7 linked regions of the Homo sapiens genome follow. The protein of the gene in region 5 purifies or fractionates together with the protein of the main gene of each other region. This does not show direct contact. Each region holds a gene or a part of one and is shown on either strand. Other genes may lie near its edges. The genes, in order: RBM45, CARNMT1, SLBP, MOV10, ZFC3H1, ANKHD1-EIF4EBP3 and FBXW8.

Region 1 (3,500 bases), on a different chromosome or scaffold from region 5:
ATTACTGCTAGCTAAATGAGAAATTTAGAAGGATCTAAGAGAAAATCTGGGTATGTACCTTAGGGGTATCTAAGAATTCTACTGATTAACAGTAATTCTTTCCAGTAAGTATATATTTTTATAATGTCCTAAAATCCAGTAATTTAATTACTCTACATATCATTTCTAAAGGTCAATATACCTAACTAGAAGTATACCAACAAAGAATATTCTCTTTGACATCTTTAAAATTCTTATTCTTTATATATACAGCAACATCAGAAGATCACATTCATGTCACTCTAGCTTGAAATTAACCCTATCTATATCAGTTACCTATGTTAGCACATCTTATAAATCTTACCCTTAACCTATAGGTTTATTAGTTATACTTTATAGTCTTTGGGATGTAGATCAAATATAAACAAATATAAAGAATATTTTAAAAACCTTGAAAAGGTAAGTCAAGTTTTTAATACTTAAAATTCTAAAATACACTTAAAAAACCCTAAAAACCTATAAAAATAATACCCAAAGTATGCATTTCACTTACTAAGTTAATGTAGTTGCTCTTATTTCTTCAAGATAGTGCCTCAATGAATGTTTAATCATAACCCCAAAATATTTTTCTTCCTTGGACTGTAAATATTTAAATACCCACTGCTAAAATTACATTAGCAGATACAGTTATTAGCAAAAACTAATATTAAATTCAGCTATTTAGAATAATCAGAATTTTTTACAAAAGTTTTTAACAATGTTAAACACATCCTTACTTCGATCACAGTTTTCTATTGCTTGGGCAGCTTGTGATGGTTTTAAGTATCGTACGTAGCCCAAACCTTTACTTTCTCCAGTCACTTTATTCTTAATAATGCTGCAATACTCGATATCTCCATACACCTAAGAGAGTTAAAAGACATGATTTTAGGGGACTTAAAATTAATTGAACAGAGTATTTCAGAACTAAAAATTTGTTTATATGTGACCCTTGCATGCAAACAAAGAAATAGGCAGTATAAAATATGCAGATATTGCATATTTGTATTTGCAAATATGCTTATTTCATAGATAAGGAAGCTGGGCTTTAGAGAAATCAAAGAGGGACAAAGTCACAGAAGAGTAAGAATTTGTACATGGTCTGGATAGCTCCAAAGTCTTGCTCAACAGTGGTTAAGAGCCAGAGCTCTGGAATTAAACTTTCTAGATTGAAATCCTGAATCAACCACTCATTAATTAGGCAGTTTACTTATTCTCTCTGTGCCTACCTCTTTATTAAAGAGGCTAGCAGTAGTATCTACCTCACAGGGTTGTTTAAGGGTTAACTGAAGTAAAACATGTGAAGTGCTTACATGGGGCTTGGAACATACTCAAAGAACATTAGCTATTATTACTTGTCTGTCTTCTAACAGGAACATAAATGATTGTGTATTCTTTTGAAGGAGTGCTTTTCAAAGGGTATTTCTAAAATATGCTGGTTCACTCAGAAAGTTACTATTCTGAGAAACATGCAGTAGTGTTTACTTTCAATGTTCAAAGAAATATGGAATATAATTGGTATTTATTATTTATTTTATAAATTCTTATGTAATCAATTAGCAACTTAATTACTATACATTAAAGTGTTATATTTGTTCATTCAGGAAAAGAAAAATTTATAAATATTTAAGGTAAAAAACATTTTCCTTACTACTGGAGGATGTATAAAATATACGTTTTTGGTATTTGTTATTTTTGAAGTATTTCATTGAATTCTCAATTGGGGTAGGAGAGAAAGTTTGAAAATTACTTTTTACTGCTTGTTTTCTTTCTTGCTTGTTGCCACCCAATTCATGGGAGGATTAGTAGAAAAAAGATAAAAAACTACAATTCAAAACAATTAAAAAATTGCTTTTTAATAATTTGTGTGAAAGCTCATCACTGCATAAGTTAATGGCTAAAAAGACATAAAATTATCCTCAAATTTCACTTATATAGGTCAGAGCTATATTTACGTTTTCTTCTTTAAATATAATTCCTTCAAAGGCCCAATTTTAGGACAAAAACTCTTCAAAGAATAAGCCTTTCTGTGAATGAGTACCATGTCAACACACCATAGGCCCGTTCTCAATACTAGATAATACAGTTCACACACTCAGGTCTGCCTGATTCGCCTCTACATGCCAGGCAATAGAGGGGAGTGATAAAAGCGTGCTTTGAAATTTTAAAGACCAAGAGCAGGCTCCAGACTCCGACAGCCTGGGTTTAAATCATAGCTCTACCACCTACTAGTTGTGTGACTTTACTTAAAAGTTTCTGAGCTTTATGCTTCATTTCTGCGAATCTCTACTTTCACAATAAAGTAGGGAGAGACTACCATTACTATTTTCCAGCTTTTATATATTCTTTAATTTTAAAAACTAATTTATGCTAGGTTTAATATTTAAAGAGTAGATTGAAATTGATGAAAGCAGTTATGTAATTCCCCAAGACTACTCTATTGACCTTATTCCAACAACATTTCAGATTTAGTACCCATACAACCTATGCAGGACTATGAGTTATCACATATGCTAGCTGATTAGAATAAATACCTTAAATTTTTCCCGCAGATCTTCTTCTGTGTAGGACTTTGGTATCATAACAAAGATTCTTGTAAGTTCTTCATCTTCAACATCTCGGTGACTTCCAGATGATCGGGACTGAGCAATGAAAACCTAAGAAACAAACAAAACTCCCAAAATAAAATAATGTCAACTATTTTCCCATTTCTTAAATTTTTTCAAAAGCAATTATTCTTGCAATGACTTTTTTTTAATCTTTGAGACAGGGTCTCAAAGAAAAAAAAAAGCAGGCTGCAGTGCAGTGGTGTGATCATGGCTCACGGCAGTCTCAACATTCTAGGCTCAAGTGATCCTCCCACCTCAGCCTCCCAAGTAGCTGGGACCACAGGCACACACCACCACACCCAGCTAATTTTTTAATATTTGTAGAGACAAGGTCTTGCTATGTTGTCCAGGATGGTCATGAATTCCTGGGCTCAAGTGATCCTCCCACTTTGACCTTCCAAAGTGCTGGGATTACAGGTGTGAGCCACTGTGCTGGGCCTGCAATGACTTTTTTTTATGAGATAATACCAATCTCTGCATTGTGTTTTTCCCAAATGTATTTCTACTTTTGCATTTATTTTTAGCCAGAGTAATTTGAAGAAACGTAATACAATTAATTAAAACACCATAAACAAGGGCACTTGCATTGTTTGTTTCTTTTTCCTTTAAAGGGGTCTCTATATCTTGGTCTCTGATCCACTGCTGGTAAAGGGGGCTCTGTATCATTAAAGCATGAGAAAACTGGAACTTATGAAATTCCACAGTAGGAAGCAGCAACCAAGAAAACCACAGTGTTAGAGACATATCCCTTTATAGTCTACTTCTAGTTATTCCTTCAATAAATCTATACTATATGTCAAGCACCATATGAGTACAACTATTGAGTAACATGGAAATGGCCCACTAGAGTCTTGTGGCTGATATCAGTAATAA
Region 2 (3,004 bases), on a different chromosome or scaffold from region 5:
AATTTTACTTATGCCCTCACCCATTACCTACTATTATACTTCATTATAATTCCCAACAAACTTTTGGAATCTGTATCTGTACCTACCATTTTTTACTGTTTTCCCCAGGATTCCACGGAAATCTTTTTCAAAGGGTCACTGTAAGATAATTAAAACTAATGTCCTGTTAACAATCCTCATTTTTTCCATCACTATATAGCAGTCAACACAGACTGAAATTACATTTATGGTAATCGTCTATCATGTGCTTTCATACACACAAAAATATATATAAAAGCTCATATGACCTAATAAACCATCTGAAATAGATGGTATTAATCCTCTCTTACAGATGAGGAAATAAGCCAAAGAGTGGCTTGCCTGAGATCACAATCATTCAGGAAAATGAACCCAGAAGATCTAAGTGCTCATCCCACTGATGGCTGGTCCTAGAACTGTCTTCTACTAGTTCCTTTTATAGTTCTTTTTCCATTATTTAACAAAACTGAAAATCAAGATTATTCATTTTCCTCAATGGATTCTAACTTTATTACAGTGAACTTGAATGAAACAAAGTGAAAATAGTTAGTATAAGGCCTGGCATATTATAAGGCGAAGTATTCATGTTACTGACTTCTTAGAAGCATATAAAAATAGGCTAATCCAAGAGTTCAAAAGTATATATGCTCAACTCATTAAAATCCCCACATCTATAGTTACATTAATTTAGATGAAAACCAAGCAACTATCGTTTCATAGCAATTGGCAGACTTTAATATTCAAGAAAAATTAATTTCATCATACACATTAAAAATATAGGAAATTTCATGCAGACATGAAGCTTCCAATTCAGCTTTTGTGGCAACTTTTAGAATGAGAGTTACATATAAATACAGTACATTTTACAGTTACCAAACTTCATAATTTTATACTGTGATTTTTACAGCTTCTCCTTATATTGTACATGTTCCACCTTGCTCACTTGATTAGCATACCCTATATCTGCACTGCTTCAGAATATAGAAATTAAACAAAAAAACATAAGCACAGTGGACTATCTCCTCCCATTTCATAAAGTAAATGAAAATGTTTGTGTATAAAGCTAATTTAAGAAAAACATTTTAAACTTTAAGGCTTACATACTTTAGTAGCTAGGACTAAAATTAAGAAATACAAAGCTAAATAAATCCTCCAGTGATACTTCTATTATTGATTGATACCACATTTTCAAGTTTAGAATATATTAACTGCAAAAGCTGTAAGAAAAGAAGTGATGCAAATTTGTATAGAACATTTAAAAAACAATATTCATGATATGAGGGATAAATTAACAAATGAAGTAACTGATTTCAGAATTAACTAAAACATATGCTATAATTTAGAAATTTAACATTATTAAAGAAAACCTAATAGAAAAAAAATTAATTAATAAAGCCAACCCACCAGTGTCAACCTGTTTTTGCCTGTGACAAAAACAAAGATCATTTGTTTTGATACAAGTTGTAAAAAAGTGAATACTAGTCAGTGAATAAAAAGCATGTCTAAGCCATTGAAAAACAGCATGCATTCCTTTCTGTTCGATTGATTTTTAAAAAATACTTATGTACTTTGCAAGTTTTCTTCTTTTAAAACAATAATTTGAGTTTTTTTTTTCTTCCTTGCCACTAAATTCAAACTCATTCATGTAAGTAATAAGAATTTCCACCAAATGAACATCTGCTAAGTATTGAGGGACACAAAAAAGAGAAATCTTAAAAAAAAAAAAAAAAGGTTACAGTCTTCCCAATTTTGACATGTCAGATTAACTACATGAAACCCTCTATTGCATAGTGAGAGTAAAGGTCACAAAAGTCCCATCACTGTACACGGAAAAGGTCCCCCCAACTAGTAAGATGCCAAATAGGGTAGTGACTCCCCAGCCTAAGTGACAACAAAGGTCTAAAGATTTACAAGTAACTTTTCCTATTAAAACATGACATTTATGCGACCAGCACATTACTGAGATTAAATCCATCTAATTTAAATTGCCACAGAGGTCATTTAAAGCAATCACAATCATCTGTGAAAATATTCAAGAAGAGTTCTTCCTTTTCTCCAAGAAAAGGCTAAAACATTAGTCATCTCTACTTTCCAAGCTACTGGAAACAGAATATCATACATTAAAAAATACAAAGGAAAACTCCCTCCAATAAAGATCTGCTAGAGGTAGAAATTTAAAGCAGCATATACTGTTTAAGCTCCATCTATCAGGGAACAAAATTGGTATTAATCTGAAATTACATGATGGCTGCTGCTTACAATATTGAAGACACAGACCACGGGCAGTAATATATCCCTGAATTTCATAATCAAAATTCCCCACATTAATACTATTATGACAGTTTTTCCTAGTATATAATTTTTTTAATGAAAAAAGTGCTTGCTTTCATAATCCAGATATTCTAAAGAAAAGACATTATTGTAAACATCACACTGTCAAACTCTGTATTCATTTAGAGTCTGAAAATCACATATTTCAAATGGGTAAATTTTATTCTTATTTTCTCTGTTTCCTAGCACTACTTTTAATAAAGGCTTTTTATTTCTCACTTTGAATGTTGAGATCTCGTATATTTCAAAGTGATCCATGATGAGTATGCTTTCATAAAGTGTTCAGTTTATTGTGGCCAAAAGACTTTGATATTTCTGTTACTTGAATATATTTTACCGGCCTGTGATGCTATTAAATTTAACATTTCATAAAAAAGAAATGTTTGATGCTTCTTTAAGTTCATCTGAGCCAGAAAATACAAAATTAAATTAATCTGAATGATAAAATAGACACAGGCCAGGCGCGGTGGTACATGCCTACAGTCCTAGCTACTCAGGAGGCTAAGGCTAAGGCAGGAAGATCGCTTGAGTCCAGGAGTTTGAGGTTACAGTGAGCTATGATCGTGCCACTGCACTCCGGCCTGGGAGACAGAGCGGGATCCTGTCTCTGAAGAAAAAAAAAAAAAAAGACATATTTTACGCATAGTTTTCTTAG
Region 3 (3,500 bases), on a different chromosome or scaffold from region 5:
ATCTCCAAAATAAATAAATACCCAAGCATGGTGGGGCGTGCCTGTAGTCCCAGCTACACAGGAGGCCCAGGCAGGAGGATCACTCTAGCCCAGGAGGTCAAGGCTGTGTGAGCCATGATCCTGGCACTGCACTCCAGTCTGGGCAACAGGGCAAGACCATATCTCAAAAAAATATATATGGTGGCAGAGGACAGTGGCTCATACTTGTAATCCCAGCACTTTGGGGACGCCGAGGCGGGTGGATGACCCAAGGTAAGGAGTTTGAGACCAGCCTGGCTAACATGGCGAAACCCCATCTCTAATAAAAATACAAAAATTAGCCAGGTGCAGTGGTGCGCACCAGTAGGCCCCAGCTACTAGGGAGGCTGAGGCAGGAGAACTGCTTGAACCCCAGAGACGGAGGTTGCAGTGAGCCGAAATTGCACCACTGCTCCTCCAGCCTCAGCAAGAGACTCCGTCTCAGAAAATAAATAAAATACAGAATAGCTAGCATATCCATTTACCTTTCGGGCGCATGTAATTAATAATTCAGAATGTTATGTACACTATGATTACAATGTGTATGGAGGAGTATATGTCAGAGTCCTTGCTGTGTCAGGACTCCGTCTACTGGCAAAGTACCCCCTGTGCTTGAGTTAAACCACATCCAGGAGCTCAGTTCCATCTCAAGTTCAAGATAGTCTTCAGTCAATATTGGGAAATTTATGGCCAGGCAGTGGCTCACTCCTGTAATCCTAGCACCTCGGGAGGCTGAGGCTGGCAGACTGCCTGGGCTCAGGAGTTCCAGACCAGCCAGGGCAACATGGTGAAACCCAGCGTCTACCAAAATACAAAAACTTGGCTAGGCGTGGCAGCGCGTGTCTGTAATCCCAGCTACTAGGGAGGCTGAGGCAGGAGAATCCCTTGGACCCAGGAGGTGGAAGTTGCAGTGATCCACCAGGCGGAGTTGCAGTGAGCCGAGATCGTGCACTGCACTCCAGCCTGGGGGAGAGAGACCCCGTCTCAAAAAATAAATGAATAAATAAATAATAGTCCGGGCGTGGTGGCTCACACCTGTAATCCCAGCACTTTGGGAGGCCGAGGTAGGTAGATCACCTGAGGTCAAGAGTTCAAGACCAGGCCGGGCGCAGTGGCTCACGCCTGTAATCCCAGCACTTTGGGAGGCCGAGGCGGGTGGATCATGAGGTCAGGAGATCGAGACCATCCTGGCTAACAAGGTGAAACCCCGTCTCTACTAAAAATACAAAAAATTAGCCGGGCGCGGTGGCGGGCGCCTGTAGTCCCAGCTACTGGGGAGGCTGAGGCAGGAGAATGGCGTGAACCCGGGAAGCGGAGCTTGCAGTGAGCCGAGATTGCGCCACTGCAGTCCGCAGTCCGGCCTGGGCGACAGAGCGAGACTCCGTCTCAAAAAAAAAAAAAAAAAAAAAAAAAAAAAAAAAAAAAAAAAAAAAAAAAAAAAAAAAAAAAAAAAAAAAAAAGAGTTCAAGACCAGCCTGGCTAACATGGTGAAACGCTGTCTCTACTAAAAATACAAAAATCAGCTGGGTGTGGTGGTGGGTGCCTATAATCCCAGCTACTCGGGAGGCTAAGGCAGGAGAATCACTTGAACCTGGGAGGTGGAGGTTGCACTCCAGCCTGGGCAACAGAACGAGATTCCATCTAAAAAAAATAATAATTAAAATTTAAAAAATAATAATCAGGAAATCCAAAAGCTTAAGGCTTCGAGCCCCAAATTCTGGCAGTTCAAATTGATGTATCTTATTTATACATCAGACATAAACTCACATTTTTATTTTTCTACCCCATTTTTCTGTTGATCACTACTGACATTAAAACTAGATACTGGGCCGGGTGCACAGGCTCATGCCTGTGACCCCAGCACTTTAGAAGGCTGAGGCGGGCGGATCACAAGATCGGGAGTTTGAGACCAGCCTGGCCAACATGATGAAACCCTGCCTCTACTAAAAATACAAAAATTAGGATAGGCATAGTGGCTCACACCTGTAATCCCAGCACTTTGGGAGGCTAAAGCAGGCTGATCACTAAGTCAGGAGTTCGAGACTAGCCTGACAAACATGGTGAAATCTAGTCTCTACTAAAAATACAAAAATTAGCCAGGCGTGGTGGTGCGCACCTGTAATCTCAGCTACTCAGGAGGCTGAGGCAGGAGAATTGCTTGAACCCGGGAGGCAGAGGTTGCAGTGAGCTGAGATCGCGCCACTGCACTCCAGCCTGGGCGACAGAGCAAGACTCTATCTCAAAAACGAAAAAAAAAAAAAAAAAATCAGGCGGGCGTGGTGGCGCATGCCTGTAGTCCCAGCTACTTGGAGGCTGAAGCAGGAGAACTGCTTGAACTTGGAAGGCAGAGGTTACAGTGAGGTGAGATCACACCACTGAACTCCAGCCTGGTTGACAGTTATGCCCCGTCACAAAAAAATACACTAGATACTAACTTTAATTACAACAAATAAGCAACCTATTTTAGCTGTAAACCAAATGCTGTGCTTTGAAAATGCAATTGCAGTAACAAATGAATAATCCTCTTATGTAATTATCATTTCTTCCCTTACAGTCACACAACTCAGATAAACTTAAATTGGATTTCTAAAAGTAAATTTCCAGATTCTAAAAATGGTAGAAAGTTATGAAATCAAATTAGGTAATTAACTGAAAATTAAATTGACTCAATAGAGGTTTGTCCAGGATTGGATACAAGCATCCTCACTAGTGTATCAAGAGGTTCAAGTCTGGGTCTGCCAACATAACAAATTCCTGAACTACAAGAATAATTTAAAGCCTGTGTATGTGAATGACCATATACTACATGCCATATTTTGGTATCTTTAAGTCCATTTCTTAGATTAAGTAGGTTATATTCATAATCTACCCTATCTTGGGACAACAAAGCCTAATTTTACACACTAAGCTAACAACCTTCCAAAGAGTACTTCTAGATCTTATCCATCAACGAGCTGGCTCTATTTGTCAGGTGCCTCCAGGCATTATCCACAATGTGCAAATACCAAGTGCAAAGGCCCTAGGACAGAAGCATTCCTATAGTTTGAGGAATGAGGACACCAAAAACTTCCATAACTTCTAAAGCACTGTAAGGATTTAATATTTTTATCTTCAGCTAAATGAGACCACTGGAGAGTTCAGAGCTTGATCTCAATAAGGTTTGTTTACCTTCCCTTCATATCTGGACCTAGGGCCTCTTCTGTACCCACCCGTAGACCCAAGTCTTTTGTCTTTTTTTTTTTTTTGAGACAGTTTCACTCTTATTGCCCAGGCTGGAAGGCAATGGCGTGATCTCGGCTCACCGCAACCTCCACCTCCTGGGTTCAAGGGATTCTCCTGCCTCAACCTCCCGAGTAGCTGGGATTACAGGCATGCGCCACCATGCCCGACTAATTTTGTATTTTTAGTAGAGATGGGGTGTTGGGAAAAAGGCTTATCGAGTGCCTGTATAAGCTGGCCATAAAAATATGGCACAGTAAGTT
Region 4 (4,223 bases), on a different chromosome or scaffold from region 5:
TACTGGGAAATGAAGGTTGACTTCACAGCATTCCAGCCTGGCTTTAAAGGATGTGTAGGCAAGTTCTTTAATCTGAACATACATTTCCCCAACATGATGAGGGTACAGAGCGGGGATAGTTGATGAAACCCGCTTCTGTCTTCTGGAGTGACACAGGAGTGCAATCTTATCCATTATAACACTCCAAAATAGTCAAGGATAATTACCTTGTACTGTCTGATTTTTCTATTTTTGAGGCAAATATTTCTGAGTTTCTTTCACTGGGTCTCAGGATAGAATATGAACCCACATAGAAGGCCTTTCCACCTCCTCTATGTACTAAAATTTTATCTCTTTCAAGGCTAAAGTCAATGCCATCTTCTCCATCACATCCCCTAATGATTACAGAGGAGTGGTATCTTATCTGCATAAACACAAGTGCATACAGTAAAAACTACTTTGGAAAATGCCTACATTCACCCATAATATACAGTATATCTGGCTTTCTGTATGCAATCCAACACAACCAGTTTTTCCCCAGTACTAAAACATACTATGTACCTTTGGTTTAGAGCTGACAAAGACTCTCCTTGATCAAACTTTTGTTAGACTCCCCTGAGCCCTCTTTTTGACTAGCCCTTGACCTTGCCTCCCCAAACCCTTCAGTCTTAGGCCCACCTAGTTCAGTTTTAGCAAGAATACTGAAGTCATTTTAGTGAGACTCCTCACCCTTGATGCATGACCACGCTTGATATCTGATCAAGTTCCTCATTCCCGCCTTTGATGTACAAGTCCTTGGTCTGCCTTTAACAAGAATCTTGTTAGGTCAGGTGAGCAAAAATCCTCCCACTCTTTATGACTCCTCTTAGTAATTTTCTATATATTGATCCCCTTACTCTGTTCATTGGTCATAAATCCCCCGCTGTTTTTGCTGTATTCGGAATTGAGCTCCAACTCTCTTCTTTCCTATTGCAATACCCTATTACCATAGCCTTGAGTCAAGTCAGCCTTACTGTTTTAACCAATTACTTTTTCCTTAACAGAGCCAAAAGAAGTAGGTGACTTGTTTCCTAGCCATGTTGTACTCTGTGGATATAGGTGAATTCACATACCTTAAGTGTTGATACCATGTGATGCAAATGCTCGCTCTTTCCTCCAGCATTTTTCTCTTACCATCCCTAGTATAATCCTCCATTTTACCATGTACTATCCTATATTGTGTACATGTATATTGCATGCATATCATAGCCTCTGATGCTCCTCTGGGATTGTGTGTTTTTCATCTTAAGAGTCCCCATAGTGTCCAGCATGGTGACATAAAACAGGGCCTCATCATCTTTGCCCCTTCTCAGATGTTGTTCAAGCCTGTTAATATCCCTCTCCAAATGTGATAACCATTAGTGAAAACGATATTCCAGACACGATTTCACCAATATGGAGAGTCTCTACCCTTTTCCCCCACCCCAAATCACACTTCTGTTAGCTCAATCTTAGACTTCAGCTGTTTTAGCAGCCATATCTCACCCATACTGGCCCTCTGGTCTGCTAAAACCCAAGGTCTTTTTCGGGAGGTCTGTTATTAAGCCCAGATTCCCACTACCTTATGTTTATTTGTACAAGTCTTTACGTTTACCCTTGTTAAACTGCTTCTTGGTTTTCCACGCAAGGCAGCAGCCTGTTGATAAACGTGTTTTTGAAGCACAATTCTGTGGTGTGACAGAAGACTCTTTGATTTTCACTTGGGTGGTAGCAGGAAAAGGAGACCAAAGAGCCTTCAGCCACAGGGTGAAAGGGAGCCTCCAGAAGGCTGGCTCTGCCCCTGGGTCTCCATGGAGAAGCCACAGGTGCTAATGGAGGTTTGGTACGCACGTAGTTTGTGCCCTTTTCTTCTTTCCAGAGCTTCCTGAGCTTCTCCCTTCTACCCTGGGCCTCTTCAGTTCTCCCAGATAGCGGACCCCCGAGGCAGCAGCGCCTCAACAAGGTGGCAGAGGTCCCTGTAAAGCCCGCGCTCGGGCTCGCAGCCCCCAACAGGCAGCCTCTAACCCGCGCTCCCGCGATGCCTGGGCCCCCTCTGGAGGCTCCCCTCCCCCACCGCGAGCGCTGTCCCTCAGCCCCCGCGAGCGGCGCATGGACGCGGGACGCAGCTCCCGGCCCCGGGTTCCGGCCTCCGGGGGCGCGGGCAGCGCGGGAGGCTCTCCGCGGCGACTTGGCGCAGGGGCCCAGCTCGGGCAGAACTGGCGGGCTCCGGGCGGCGCTGGTGGGGCGTGGGCGAGGCGCGGGAGGGGAGGTCTGCGCCGCCCCGGGACTGGCCTGAGCCGCTGGGGGAGCTGCGTCCCTCTGCGCCCCGGGGCGGGAAAGGTGGCCCTCGCGCGGGGGTCGTGGCAGCAAGCTGGGCCCGCGATTCGGGGCCGGGAGTGGGCCGGCCCGTACCTGATCTTGAAGTCGCGGTTATAAATGGTCCGCAGCCGCTCGCGATCTGTCTCCATGTCCAGTCCCCGAACGACCAGGAAACTCTCGAAACACTGGCCCGCCTCCCGGAGCTGCCGGCAGCTGAACTTACTGGGCATCGCGGCGGCGGCTGCGGCCCAGGCAGGAGGGTCCGTGGAAATGAAACTGAAAGTCGCCGCTGCAGCTGGAAGTTGGCGGCCCTGAGATGAGGGTGCAGCAGGAGGGAAGCCCCCTAACTCTGACCCCTGATCCTGCGGGCTCCCTTCTCCCCACCAGGCTTCCCTCCTCCGTTCTTTTCTTACCTGAGCTTTCCCTTCGGTTTCTTCGTCCTATCCCCTCCCCCTCTTCGCATTAACTCTTTCCTAAAGCGTCTGACCCCTCCCTCAGGGCCCTCCCCTTACCCCAAGCTCCCTCCCCTGGCTTCTAGCCAGTATCAGAACGTGGCTACCGCTTGGGGCCCTCTGAACAGCCCGGGAGGACCTCCGAGCCTCAGCCAGGGCTACCCTCACGCCCACCCTCCAGAGCCTCGGGACTCAGTGAAAAGCAGGAGAGCAAAGGGCAGGGCTGGGATCTAGGTCGGCTGCGGCCGGAATGGGGAAGCTCATCCAGCGCCTCCCCCAGCCTTCCAGGGACGTAAACTCGGGGCGACACGCCCCCTCCCCCATTTTCCCTTCTCGGGCTTTCAGACGCACGTAGTTGGCATAAGGGTCAAAGAAGTTTGGGGAAAAGAACCCAGTGTCTCTGAGATAAAGGTGTGTACGTGTGGGAGGGAGGGACAAGGGGCTCTGCCAGGATACACAGTAATTGCTTTTCTCTGCCACATCGGCTTATGTGGAAAGGCTGGTGACCGACCCTTACCCCTGAGCCACATATTTGGGCGCTTCGTTGCATTCCAGTCTGTATTGCTCTTTAATTTTTACTGGTATATAAGGTGGACCCTTATATTCATCAAAATACTAGCATCTTGAGCGTAAGGGACTGTTGTGTTAGGCAATAATAAGTGGTTAATAGTGACAGCATCAGTACCAAGAAGAGAACTAAAAGGGCAGTGTGCTTCAGAAGACTGTATAGACAAATTTAAGGGGGTGGGGCTACAATAACAAACCTTTGTATCTATTTTTTTCCCGCAGAATGAAATGACACACACACTAGAATGGGACAAGCTAAGTTACACTACAAAGTTTTAAATCAAATACATCACTTTCAAATAAATCAAAGCTAGTGTTGTTCTCCATAGTAGCTACCAGCAGGAGGCCACACACTCAATCTACGGAATTGAAGAAAGTCCAGAACCCAGGTCATACTCCAGCTGGGCTACCCGGTACCTTCTCTCAGGCCAACAACCAAATGAAGCCAGGAATAACAGGCTTTAGCAACAGGAAATGCAATGTCAGTGGGAACCAAAGCTACGGGGATGGGTAAAATAGGGCAGAGGAAAACATCTTACAAACTTATTATGCAAAGTAGAAGAAAAAACTAGAAAAGCAGCCAAAGATTTTACCTTTTTTCTCCCTCAATGTCCTGATGAGGTTCCAGAAGAATAGAGAGGGTGAACTCTTAAAAATTGCCTTGTTACTTACCATCTCAAAAACGTACCATCAACCGTACTCAAACTGAATGTCTGGCTCCATTCTGACCAGCAAATCTAAATCCCTATTATTCTTGGATACAATCTCCCTTCTTCTCTGGTCAGGTTTATGTCTTGGATGTTCTCAAAACGTACACAAAAGTCTGCAGTATAGTAAAACCTTGGGTAAAAAGTGTGATGCTATGTGGCTTTGTTTACAATGGAACTT
Region 5 (3,500 bases):
GCCTAGTTCTTTGTCCTCCTGGATGATCCTGACATGGTGGGTAGCATGAACCAGCACATAATGGACTTCATCTTTCCTACCACTAGTTTCTAAAATTCATGAATGAAGGCTACTCTTGCTGAGGGCACCCTCTACCTTCCCACTGTCCTTTCAGACCCCCTAGTGGCTGACCCAACACAAAGGTCAGAAAGTCCTCAGAAGCCTCTCCTGGCACCTGGCAGTGAGTCAGGGCTGGTTAAATCTGGATGAGGATAGTGCAGCCTGGAGGGCTTTCCTCGGAGATCACTGCACTCACTAGGTCCACCCTCTCTCCCAGATACTAGGAAGGGAAAACATGCCAAGTCCATAAAACAATAGCACCATCAAGTGTCTGACTATTAAACATTCAAATGTTCATGGGGCAGAACACTGAGCATAGACATAGCCTCTCTTCTCTCTGCCACCTAATAACACAAATGTGACACAGCAGCCACATCTGCAGCGCTATGTAAAATGTTCCAAAGATTAGTGTATATTCAGATTATCTCATTTGGGACTCAAGTCAACCCCATATAAGGCATGTGGATAATAATGTATTGACTTGTGAGACAACTGGGATAAAGAAGAAATGTTAGATTTTCTCTGATTATATAGTTAGTGGGTAGGGTAGTAAGAGTAGTCTTTGAAACTGCTGTATTTCAGTGAGCCTAACAAGTCATTGAAGATAAAATACACAATTATTTTTATCTGCTACCAAGGAAGAAAAATGCTGAGATGCATCAATTGTAATTATTTCAAAATTAAAATGTGAAAAAATGTGCACCTTATTGACTAAATACACTAAGTAATTCTTCTCATTCCTAGTTTTATTTACTTTCAACACAGCTTATATGGTCCATGTCCTCAACTTTCTTTTGCTCCACAAGAAGGGAATAATGAAGTCACCACATCATTGTTTTCCTTTGGCTAGGGCACTTTGGCAGAATTTAAGGGAATTTTTTGTTTCATTATTTCTTAAAAAATATGCTTGTGTTTTTTTTTGTTTGTTTTTTTAAAGTATGTTTCTGTCTTTTCCTGCTTTATTCCCTGTTCTCATCATTAGGTTAAAAGTGGAACAAAGTGAGAGTTTTGAGGGACTAATTATTAGTTTAAAGTGAATGGCTGACTTTATGATGATATGACAATTTTAAATGGCTGGAGGTGGACTCATGAGGGGTTTAAAGATTTTATCAGAGGTTGATAAAATCTAATTTGCACTCCACCTAGATGTATTTCTTCAAACATAACATAAACTTAATATATTCCTGATGAAGTATTTCTGTTATTAAACTCTTAACAAAAAATTTTTTTACAGCTCCTTCACCAGTGCAACCGCCATTTTTCTCTGAATGTTCATTGGGGTATTTTTCTCCAGCACCATCTCTTTCTTTGCCTCCACCACCTCAGGTTTCTGTAAGTCAGAATTGATTTCTAAGAAAATTATTTTGTCTTGTCTTTTCTAATTTGTTTTTAAAAACGAATGGTTAGGTTTGAAGAGGGCTTAAAAAATCAGAATTGCTTACCAAGAATTAATAGCAATGAAATACGTAGAATAAACAGTTGATTATACCAGCAAGCTATCCATTTGGTAGATTTTTTTCATAGCTAATTTTTAATTTCATGTTGACTTTTCGGTACCTATCATGTTTCCTTCTTCACTTTACTCTCAGATAGTAGCTACTCAGAAAATTTATTCAAAAACAGAAGTTATCTACTGTTTTGGACTGTCTCTTTTTTAGGGAATTGGAATTTACATGCATTAGGATGCTTCTAAAAATTAATACTCTCCTTTCTCCTCTTTTCATAAAAATGGTTATTTTTAACTTGAAAATCCAGCAAAAGAAAAGCATTTTCTATGAAGTTAATTTCTTTTCCCCCCCATCTCCAGTCCTCCCACTAAAAATAAAACAAAAAAATAAAAACAATAAAAGGAAAAGGAAAAAAAGGAAGTAGAGGAATCACACATTAAAAGTTTTGACATTATTTTTAGATTGAGAGGACCTAGAGATCAAATTGAGTATCTCTCAGTAGGTGTAAGAGGGAACTTTTCCGTTTCAGGAAAGACGTCTAGTGTCTTTCTAGAACATATATGGTGAGGGGAATATTAGAGCCGATAGTGAGAGAGAAAACAGCACTTTCTTCGTTGTAATGTTTTCTTTTTGGGAATGAATAAATGAACTAAATGCCAAGGGAAATAGTGGAAGATCTTTGATGCAAATACATATCCAAATTTAGGGATTTGTGTAAAATTAGTTTCCTTTATAGATATTCTTTAAGAAGCCATTTTAAGAGAGTAGTGGTGATTCTTCTTGATACTTAATTAATGATTAAAGTACTCTGGACTATTATTCACAGAATCCCTTGGTTTCTAATTTTTATTTTTTACTGAAATATTATGTCTTGGGTTTCAGTACCTCTACTTGCTTTCAGGTAGTCATCTAGAAGGAAGGACCCTGTATAGTTTGATATCTATATCTTCTAGAATGCTAAATGGATATAAGAATTGGAACAGAGAAGTTTCTATAATTTTCCTTGAAGTTAATAAATGTTTCAAATATTGTTGATTTTTTTTAAAATTGTAAAAATAACACTTTTTCGTGGTTGGCTATTGATTTCTGGTTTGTTTTGAGGTTAACATATACTTAGCTTACTATATTTACAGCTAAAATAATAATGTAAAGTTTATTTTTTTCTAGTTTAATATTGCTGCAGAGAGAAGCATTTGAGTTGATAAAATTTGCGTTGTAATTCTTTCTTTTTTTAAAAAATAGTCTCTGCCACCTTTGAGCCAGCCTTATGTGGAAGGCTTGTGTGTTTCTCTTGAACCTCTACCTCCTCTACCACCATTACCACCTCTCCCACCTGAAGATCCAGAACAGCCTCCAAAACCACCTTTTGCAGATGAGGAAGAGGAGGAAGAAATGCTGCTTCGAGAAGAACTACTTAAATCTCTAGCAAATAAAAGAGCTTTTAAGCCAGAGGTAATTTAGGTACCTAAACCTCTAGGTGGTGCTCTTGAGCTTAGCTTTACGGTAGTCCTACTTTTTTCTGGTTACTTGGGCATCATTGGGCTTTTCAGCAAAGTGGGGATAATTCTAACATGCTCAAGATTTTTAAAGGTGGCAGAAATTTATTTTTATTTAGGAATGTTTAATGTCTTTCTCTTCCTTATGTAGGAAACATCCAGTAATAGTGACCCACCTTCACCTCCAGTTCTGAACAATTCACATCCTGTGCCAAGAAGCAATCTATCAATAGTCAGTATTAACACAGTGTCTCAGCCTAGGATACAGAATCCAAAGTTTCACAGAGGACCCCGTCTTCCACGAACTGTGATCTCGGTAAAAACAAAAATTTAATGCTACTTTTATTCAAACAGTTATGATAAATTTCTATGAAGTTTAGCTGTCCTGTTTTCTACCCCTTGGTTTATTTATATACACACATATATTCACATATAAATACAAATTTTTAAAATTTAT
Region 6 (3,500 bases), on a different chromosome or scaffold from region 5:
GCATGGAATATGGGGCAGTTTTCCAACTGGAAGAGAAATGCTAAGAGGCAATAGTGCCATATTCTGGGTCGGCCACATTTTTAATTTGTTTTTCAGAACAGTGCAGATTAGACTAAAATTTGGCTCTTAAACCATAGAAAATAGATTCTGGTTCTCCAAATATCTCCAAGCCAAAACTGACCTCAGATCTGTCTATATATTTCTCATAATGCCTCGGCAGCTAATTTATAATTTCAAAGAAGCAACAGCTAAATCTACACTGGTCTTTCAAAAGTAAGAGCCTATAAATGACTGGGTCTCTTCAAATAGCTGTATCTAGGCTGGGCACGGTGGCTCACACCTGTAATCCTGGCATTTTAGAAGGCCAAGGCAGGCGGATATTGCCTGAGCACAGGAGTTCGAGACCAGCCTGGGTAACACGGCAAAACCCCGTCTCTACTAAAAATACAAAAAATTAGCCGGGCATGGTGGCGCATGCCTGTAGTCCCAGCTACTTGAGAAGATGAGGAACGAGAAATGCTTGAGCCTAGGAGGCGGAGGTTACAGTGAGCTGAGACTGGGCCACTGCACTCCAGCCTGGGTGATAGAGTGAGACCCTGTCTCAAAAAAATAAAATAAAATAATAAAAATAAAAAATAAAATACATAAAAAACAAATAGCTATACCTAAAATAAACAAGAGTACTATTAAACAATGTAAATTATGAACTTGTGCCTAAACACCTTTGCAACTTCAATTTTTTAAATCTAAGAAATGCAAACAATCACTATGATTTTTTTTTTAAGTCTGTAAATTTGGAATCCTTGAAACATCCCTGGAGTTTTTTTTATTAATATGAATAGACACCAATTCCAAGAAAATGGACTTACACTATGGTATAACTTCCTTACTATGAGGGACAGAAAAATCATAGAGAGAATCTAAAGCAGCTCATTATATGTGACTGATTTACCTCTTGCTACTTTTTTTGTCCACTTAAGGTGAGATTAGGCCATAGGAGCTCCAAACTCAACTGCAGCAATAGTTAATAACTTACCAACTGGACTAGTAGAAACTCGCTGGGAAGGTGGTCTGAAGCCAGGTGCCTTTGAGTTATCAGGGTGCATGTTTTCCAAGTGTCCAAGCACTGAGTTACCCAGGAACGCTGACTGAACAGTGAAAGAGGCATCTGTAGCAACTCGTGAGGACAGTGGACCATCTCCCCAGCCCTGGTTAGCTGGCACCTGACTACTATCAAAAAGACTGCTGAAGTGATTGAAAAGTGTGGCTGGGCCAAATGTAGGTGGCAAAGACTTATTTGCTGGGTTTATGTGCATCTGAGAACCATTCATAATGTTCACAGCTGAAGAAAGCTGCACTGCAGCTGGTGGGCCTTGAGGTGGTGTTAAAGTAACTGGATTCGTAACAAAAATAGACTGGGGATCCTGGTGAATAGTTGCATTTGGTACCATGGAGTAAAAAGAACCTCTGGGCTGCATTCGATGAGAAACTCGAGGTGCTGGTACAGCTAACTGAGGTAAATTACTGGTGTCCTGATTATCAGCAGCAACCATTCTGGGTGATGTCAAAGTCAATGGAGCAGGTTCTGAGTTAGATGCAAAAGGCATTGACATAGGACTTAAATCAGACACACTGGATGGCTGTGCCTCCTCTTGTGTGTTACTGGAAGTAGGAGTGGGACTACTGGATGGGTGAGTTTCTGGAGCTCCCGGGGTGTTGCTGGCAGAGCTACTGCAACTGTTTGCAGTTGAAGATGGGGTACATAGGTTTGCCATGGGCTGGTCCTGTGTGGACACTTTCTCTTTGGTGGGTGGCACAGCAGAGAAAGACTCCATCTTTTGTGAAGAAAGCTGTGCTTGAGAAGTACTTGCAGGTAGAAATGTGGTGGGAGCTTGCCCGCTAGTGATAGGTGCAGAGGAGACAGAAGGCAGGGAACTACAAGTGCTTGTCACAGAAGAAATCACTGTTGCTGGAGGACTTGTCTTAGGCACACAGGCAAACAACTGCTTTCTGACTGATGAAGGAGTCCGGGTATTAGTGACACACAGTTGCTGACTGGCAGCAACTACAGAAGAGACAGTGATAGGACAACTGGCAGTAGCTAGTCCAGCAGACTCTGAGGGTAAAACAGTCCCGTTCTGGTTAGGTAGACGGCTTGTGTTATTATGCTTTGGAGAGCTATTTGTGTTGCCAGGATTCACAGGTCTCACTGGGAATGGTCCCCATGTGTTAGGAGAAGGTGAGAAGGTTCCTCCAAACTGGGCCATGGGTAAGCGAGGATGCCGAATCTGTTGCATAGTTTGAGCAGCCAGCAGGGCAAAATGAGGGTGAGGATAAGCTAAGGGTAGAGAAACTGGGAAAGAAGAACGTACATTTGTTGGAACATTCTTATTAAGTTTATTAGCGGGCTGGAACGTAGATAACGTTGTTGCCTGTGAAGTTACAAGAGTTGGAGCACCCAAAGGAAATGCATTTTTACTGGAAGCTGCTGTGGTACCTACTCCAGATGAGAAGTTAGCATGAATTGATTTGGTGCTGGCAGGTGTTCTGATATGATTTTTAGGAATCAAGTCTTCCAGTTCCTTAGCAGGATCTTGAATGAGTGCATTGATTAGTTGAACTGCATATCTTGTTGATTCTGTGCCACCCCTAAGGGAAAAAAAAAAACAGAAACAAGACCAAAAACATTAAAAAAAAAAAAAAAGGTAATCTTAACCATCAAATAAAGTTCTTAATTATACCATACCTGACAAAGGTATGCTTCTTATAATTTCTACTCAGAACTAGCAGTATACATTTTGCACAATTACCTTATTGTGATCATTCTCTCGCCATTCTTATCTTTTTGTTTATCCACATCAATATGGGCACCAGTAACATCCTGTATTGCAGTGATGTTGCATCCTCCTCTTCCCATTATCCTCGACACCACTGAGGCTGGAACAGACAATTTCTTTGACCTATAAAATGAAGAATACACATGAGCTTATGAAATTAAATGTCTCTTTATTAAGAAAGATGTCTTAGTAAGTATGTTCATGGACATTTTGGAGAATAACATTTCTTAAATGCTAAAGAGGAAATTATTAAAAGTTTTTATTTTAGAAATTGATCTCTTGTAATATTGAATTGAATTTAGTAAAGTTAAAAATTACATTGCTCTGCAGTTTCAGAGAACCTAATTTTAAAAATTACACTGCCATTGAAAACAAAAATTATATTTAAATCACTCACAATATAAGCATTCAAATCTGCCCAAAATATTACACATCAACTAAACTGCAATGACCCTGTTAAAATAATGAATACCATATTATTAAAATCCACACAGAATAACTATGCTAGCATATTCATTTTAAACCAGTATCAACAGCTCATACTTAGCAATAAAAAATAAAGCCTCAGGTCAATGATGAGCTGACATGTATTCTGAATCTAAAGTTGATTATTAGTACTTTAGTTCTAGAATTACTGAGACATGAGAAAGAAAAAAAGCAAGA
Region 7 (3,500 bases), about 45 Mb from region 5:
AGGAGAGAAGACAGGAAGAGGAGAAGCTTCAGGTCCCAGAGGGGTACCACAGTGGGTGTGGTTTTTGAAACCACAGTGGGTTTGTGAAAAGAGTAAAGATGTTCACATTAAGGGTCCCAAACACTGCAGGCACATTCCCACCATCAGGATTGGCTATAGAATTTGGGGGGCCTGTTGGTCACAAATGATTAAGATCATTACAAATGATCAAGGCAACAGAGCATTAAACTAAGTGCGGGTCCTGGTCACCACAGAACCTTTGCACTTGCCCGTCTTGGCCTAGAATCCCCTCCCCCAGATCTCTGTATGTTCACTCCTCACCTCCTTTAGGTTCTCCATGAAATGTGACCTTCCCAGAAAGACCCTGTTGGACAGCACTATTTAAAATTACAGCCCCTCCCCTGGCAGATACACTCTATCCTGTCTGCTTATTTCTTCTCCAGAACATTTATTTATTACCTGACAATTATTTGTCCATTGTCTAACTCCCTCTTCCCCAGAATGTAAGTTACACAAGGGCACAGGCTTTTTTCTGCCTTGTTCAATGCTATATTCTCAGTGCCTGGAACAGTGGCTGGTACCAAGAAGACACTTAATAAATATTTGTGGGATATGAATGAAACCCAAGCTGCTTCAAGCAGCAGACCGTTCCAACAAAGACCGCATGTAAGTCACAAGTTGTTCTAGTATACACAGGCATCATTTCAAAAGGTTCGTAAGTGGAGGCCTGCTAATTCACGAATAACATGAAAAAATGAACAGCACTGAGGATAAGAACTTTTTAGTTGGGGGAAAGGGAGAAATTTGGGCTGGAGAAATCACGGAAGAATTAACACAGGAGACAGAACTCAAGCTGAGCTTTAAAAGGCAGGCAAAGAACAGGAAAGAGGAAAGGAAGTTATTCCAGTTAAGTCAATTCATGAGTACACATTTGGTTTGGTTTGCTGTCTCACTGCATATTAGCCAGAAGAAAAGTGTTCACATTAGGGAGCTTACTTATTTGTGTTTAACTTAAAAACAGAAGAAGGTTAAGCCATTAAATCTATCTTGTTGGCAACACAGATGCAGGATCTGACAGGTTAAATATTGACATGGTGAGTGATAAATATTGGCCAGCAGTATTAAAACTTTCAGCAGACCTAAAACTCCATATCTTAACCTGGAAGGATGCTTTGAATGTTCAAGGGTTCTAACAATCATAGAGCCTTTATAAAGTCGCAGTCAGAAGCAGCAATTTTGCCCACATTATTTCAACTCAACAAACATAGATAGGGCCCCTACTGTACTAGTAAGGCAGGTGGAGTTAGAACAGTAAGGCAACAGATCCTGCCCTCCAGGGATTCACAAGAGGCGGAAGCTAAGGGCTTATCGGTGATAAGCTTCAGTAAAGAGGAAGTAAAATAGCATAGCAAACTCTGAGTACTAACGATAATGGCACCAGCTTACATTTATTGGGCCCTTACTGTACTCCAGGCTCAGTGCTAAGTTCCATGCCTATTTCATTGCCTCTTCACGAGATAGGTACTAACATCATCATCATTTGACAGCTAAGGCAGGGGAAATTAACTTGCCCAAGGCAAACTGGTAACAGCAGAGCCAGAATCTGAACTCAGGTCTGCTTGACTGCAGAGCCCAGCCCCATAGCCAAGACTGTCCTGACTCCATTAATGTCATTCTTTTAGTTAAAAGAAACAAGACTTTAGGCTCTCTGAGGACAAGGAGCCATTCTGTTTACTGCTGATTCCCCAGCACTGAGCTGATCAATGAATATATGTTGGATGAACAGAAAACACAGTCGTCCCCCCTTATCCGCGGTTTTGCTTTCCATAGCATCAGTTACTTACAGTACAGTATTATGAGAGCCCACATTCATATAACATTATAGTATACTGTTGTAATTGTTCTATTTTGTTGTTGCTGTTAATCTCTTACTGTGCCTTGTTTATAAACTTTATCATTGCTCTGTGTATATAGGAAAAAAAAACATGGCATATACAGGGTTCAGTACTATCTGCATTTTCAAGCACCCACCGGGGGTCTTGAAATGTATCTCCAGTGGATAAGGTGGGACTACTGTATTCTCAGTTAGTGCTGCGTCACACACCCACCTAAAATGGATATCAGTTATTGCTCTTTTTTCCTGCCCAACATCCACTTCCTCTATTTAGGAAACCATCCCACTCCCACTCTTAGTCAACACAATTTAGGCAGAGCTGACCTCACCTTCATCTTCAGGAATGGGCAATGGATTCGAGTCTGAACAATTTGAATCAGTGATTGGCTGAAAGGTGGACACATGACCCAGTTTGCAGCAATGGGAATTTAGGTTCATGACTTGCAGCTCTCTTTCCCTTGAGTTGCTAAGCAGATAGAAGACTAGAGTTGCTGGTAGCCATTTTTCCCCAAGAGGAAAGCCTGTCTGTGAATAAAGTCAACAAAAGGAAAGCAGGATTAAGAGAAGGCAAATCCTACTTACCTTAGGTAAGCACCCAGAACAAACATTACCACCTGGAATTTTCAGTTACAGGAATCAATAGATTCCAGTTTGGGTTTTTAAGCCAGTTTGGGTTGGGTGCTTGTTGCCTGCAGCCCAGAGTCCTGATACACCACCTAAATAAAAATGGAGCCCAAGCAAGTTGGTATCACAGCCACTCCACTGAAGAAAGCAGCACACTTGCAATTATACTCAGGTATATCCACTATCTCCAAGAAGCCTGGGTTTATGAACAGAGGAGAAGAGAAGACAACAGAGAAAGTGCCTACTGCCTCTGAAATTCTGACCAGGGATGTGTTCTTTCACTAGTTTACTTATACTAAGAACTCTATCAGGTGCCAACTGAGGTATTCCCAACTCATCACCTAAAAAGAGATGGCTGCTAAGTGCTATTACTAAAAGCTTCATAAAACATGAGGCTTGGGAGGAGTCCTGCGTTGTTTTTTTTTTGTTTTTTTTTTTTTGAGGTGGAGTCTTGCTCTGTCACCCAGGCTGGAGTGCAGTGGCGCAATCTCGGCTCACTGCAACCTCTGCTTCCCGGGTTCAAGCAATTCTTCTGCCTCAGCCTCCCCAGTAGCTGGGACTACAGGCACGTGCCACCACACCCGGCTAATTATTGTATTTTTTAGTAGAGACAGGGTTTCACCGTCTTAGCCAGGATGGTCTTGATCTCCTGACCTCGTGATCCATCCACCTCGGCCTCCCAAAGTGCTGGGATTACAGGCATAAGCCACCATGCCCAGTGAGTCCTGCGTTTTCATGTCAGCTTTGCTTGCCCATCAGAGGTTCTGGCCTATACCAGCCAGATGACACTCCAAGGCAGCACTGCTCACCTACCCATCCAAAGGCAACTTCACTTTTGATTGCTAACTTATTAGTTGTTCTCTCTCTAGTGATGGATACTGAAGACTCTGAAGTGGAGGAGACTGCACCAGAAATACAACAGGGTGCACTAATGAAAGTGCCAAAGGTTGGAGAAGAAACGGGGGCAGGGAGGAAGTGTAAG

The links.
Region 1: the proteins of ZFC3H1 (region 5) and RBM45 purify together in Homo sapiens (affinity purification with mass spectrometry; 2 studies listed by BioGRID and IntAct, with this or other methods). This does not show direct contact.
Region 2: the proteins of ZFC3H1 (region 5) and CARNMT1 purify together in Homo sapiens (affinity purification with mass spectrometry; 2 studies listed by BioGRID and IntAct, with this or other methods). This does not show direct contact.
Region 3: the proteins of ZFC3H1 (region 5) and SLBP purify together in Homo sapiens (affinity purification with mass spectrometry; 2 studies listed by BioGRID and IntAct, with this or other methods). This does not show direct contact.
Region 4: the proteins of ZFC3H1 (region 5) and MOV10 purify together in Homo sapiens (affinity purification with mass spectrometry; 2 studies listed by BioGRID and IntAct, with this or other methods). This does not show direct contact.
Region 6: the proteins of ZFC3H1 (region 5) and ANKHD1-EIF4EBP3 purify together in Homo sapiens (affinity purification with mass spectrometry, with the first as the bait; 2 studies listed by BioGRID). This does not show direct contact.
Region 7: the proteins of ZFC3H1 (region 5) and FBXW8 purify together in Homo sapiens (affinity purification with mass spectrometry; 2 studies listed by BioGRID and IntAct, with this or other methods). This does not show direct contact.

What each region holds. Positions count from the first base shown.
Region 1 is NC_000002.12:178,115,437-178,118,936, reverse strand, and holds part of RBM45 (RNA-binding protein 45), read right to left. Parts: intron 2,676-3,500; coding exon 2,553-2,675; intron 883-2,552; coding exon 756-882; intron 1-755. UniProt on the Homo sapiens protein: RNA-binding protein with binding specificity for poly(C). May play an important role in neural development.
Region 2 is NC_000009.12:74,980,290-74,983,293, forward strand, and holds the end of CARNMT1 (carnosine N-methyltransferase), read right to left. Parts: 3' UTR 501-3,004; downstream 1-500.
Region 3 is NC_000004.12:1,705,820-1,709,319, forward strand, and holds part of SLBP (histone RNA hairpin-binding protein), read right to left. Parts: intron 1-3,500. UniProt on the Homo sapiens protein: RNA-binding protein involved in the histone pre-mRNA processing.
Region 4 is NC_000001.11:112,673,236-112,677,458, reverse strand, and holds the start of MOV10 (helicase MOV-10), read right to left. Parts: upstream 2,801-4,223; 5' UTR 2,730-2,800; intron 2,722-2,729; exon of another isoform or gene 2,612-2,721; 5' UTR 2,547-2,611; coding exon 2,410-2,546; intron 1,969-2,409; exon of another isoform or gene 709-1,968; intron 1-708.
Region 5 is NC_000012.12:71,636,349-71,639,848, reverse strand, and holds part of ZFC3H1 (zinc finger C3H1 domain-containing protein), read left to right. Parts: intron 1-365; exon of another isoform or gene 366-494; intron 495-1,333; coding exon 1,334-1,431; intron 1,432-2,789; coding exon 2,790-2,999; intron 3,000-3,194; coding exon 3,195-3,359; intron 3,360-3,500. UniProt on the Homo sapiens protein: Subunit of the trimeric poly(A) tail exosome targeting (PAXT) complex, a complex that directs a subset of long and polyadenylated poly(A) RNAs for exosomal degradation. The RNA exosome is fundamental for the degradation of RNA in eukaryotic nuclei.
Region 6 is NC_000005.10:140,527,333-140,530,832, reverse strand, and holds part of ANKHD1-EIF4EBP3 (ANKHD1-EIF4EBP3 protein), read right to left. Parts: intron 3,482-3,500; exon of another isoform or gene 3,405-3,481; intron 2,961-3,404; coding exon 2,811-2,960; intron 2,650-2,810; coding exon 1,037-2,649; intron 1-1,036. Other genes in the region: ANKHD1 (ankyrin repeat and KH domain-containing protein 1), read right to left, coding at 1,037-2,649, 2,811-2,960. UniProt on the Homo sapiens protein: May play a role as a scaffolding protein that may be associated with the abnormal phenotype of leukemia cells. Isoform 2 may possess an antiapoptotic effect and protect cells during normal cell survival through its regulation of caspases.
Region 7 is NC_000012.12:116,917,450-116,920,949, reverse strand, and holds part of FBXW8 (F-box/WD repeat-containing protein 8), read right to left. Parts: intron 2,420-3,500; coding exon of another isoform or gene 2,219-2,419; intron 1-2,218. UniProt on the Homo sapiens protein: Substrate-recognition component of the Cul7-RING(FBXW8) ubiquitin ligase complex, which mediates the ubiquitination and subsequent proteasomal degradation of target proteins.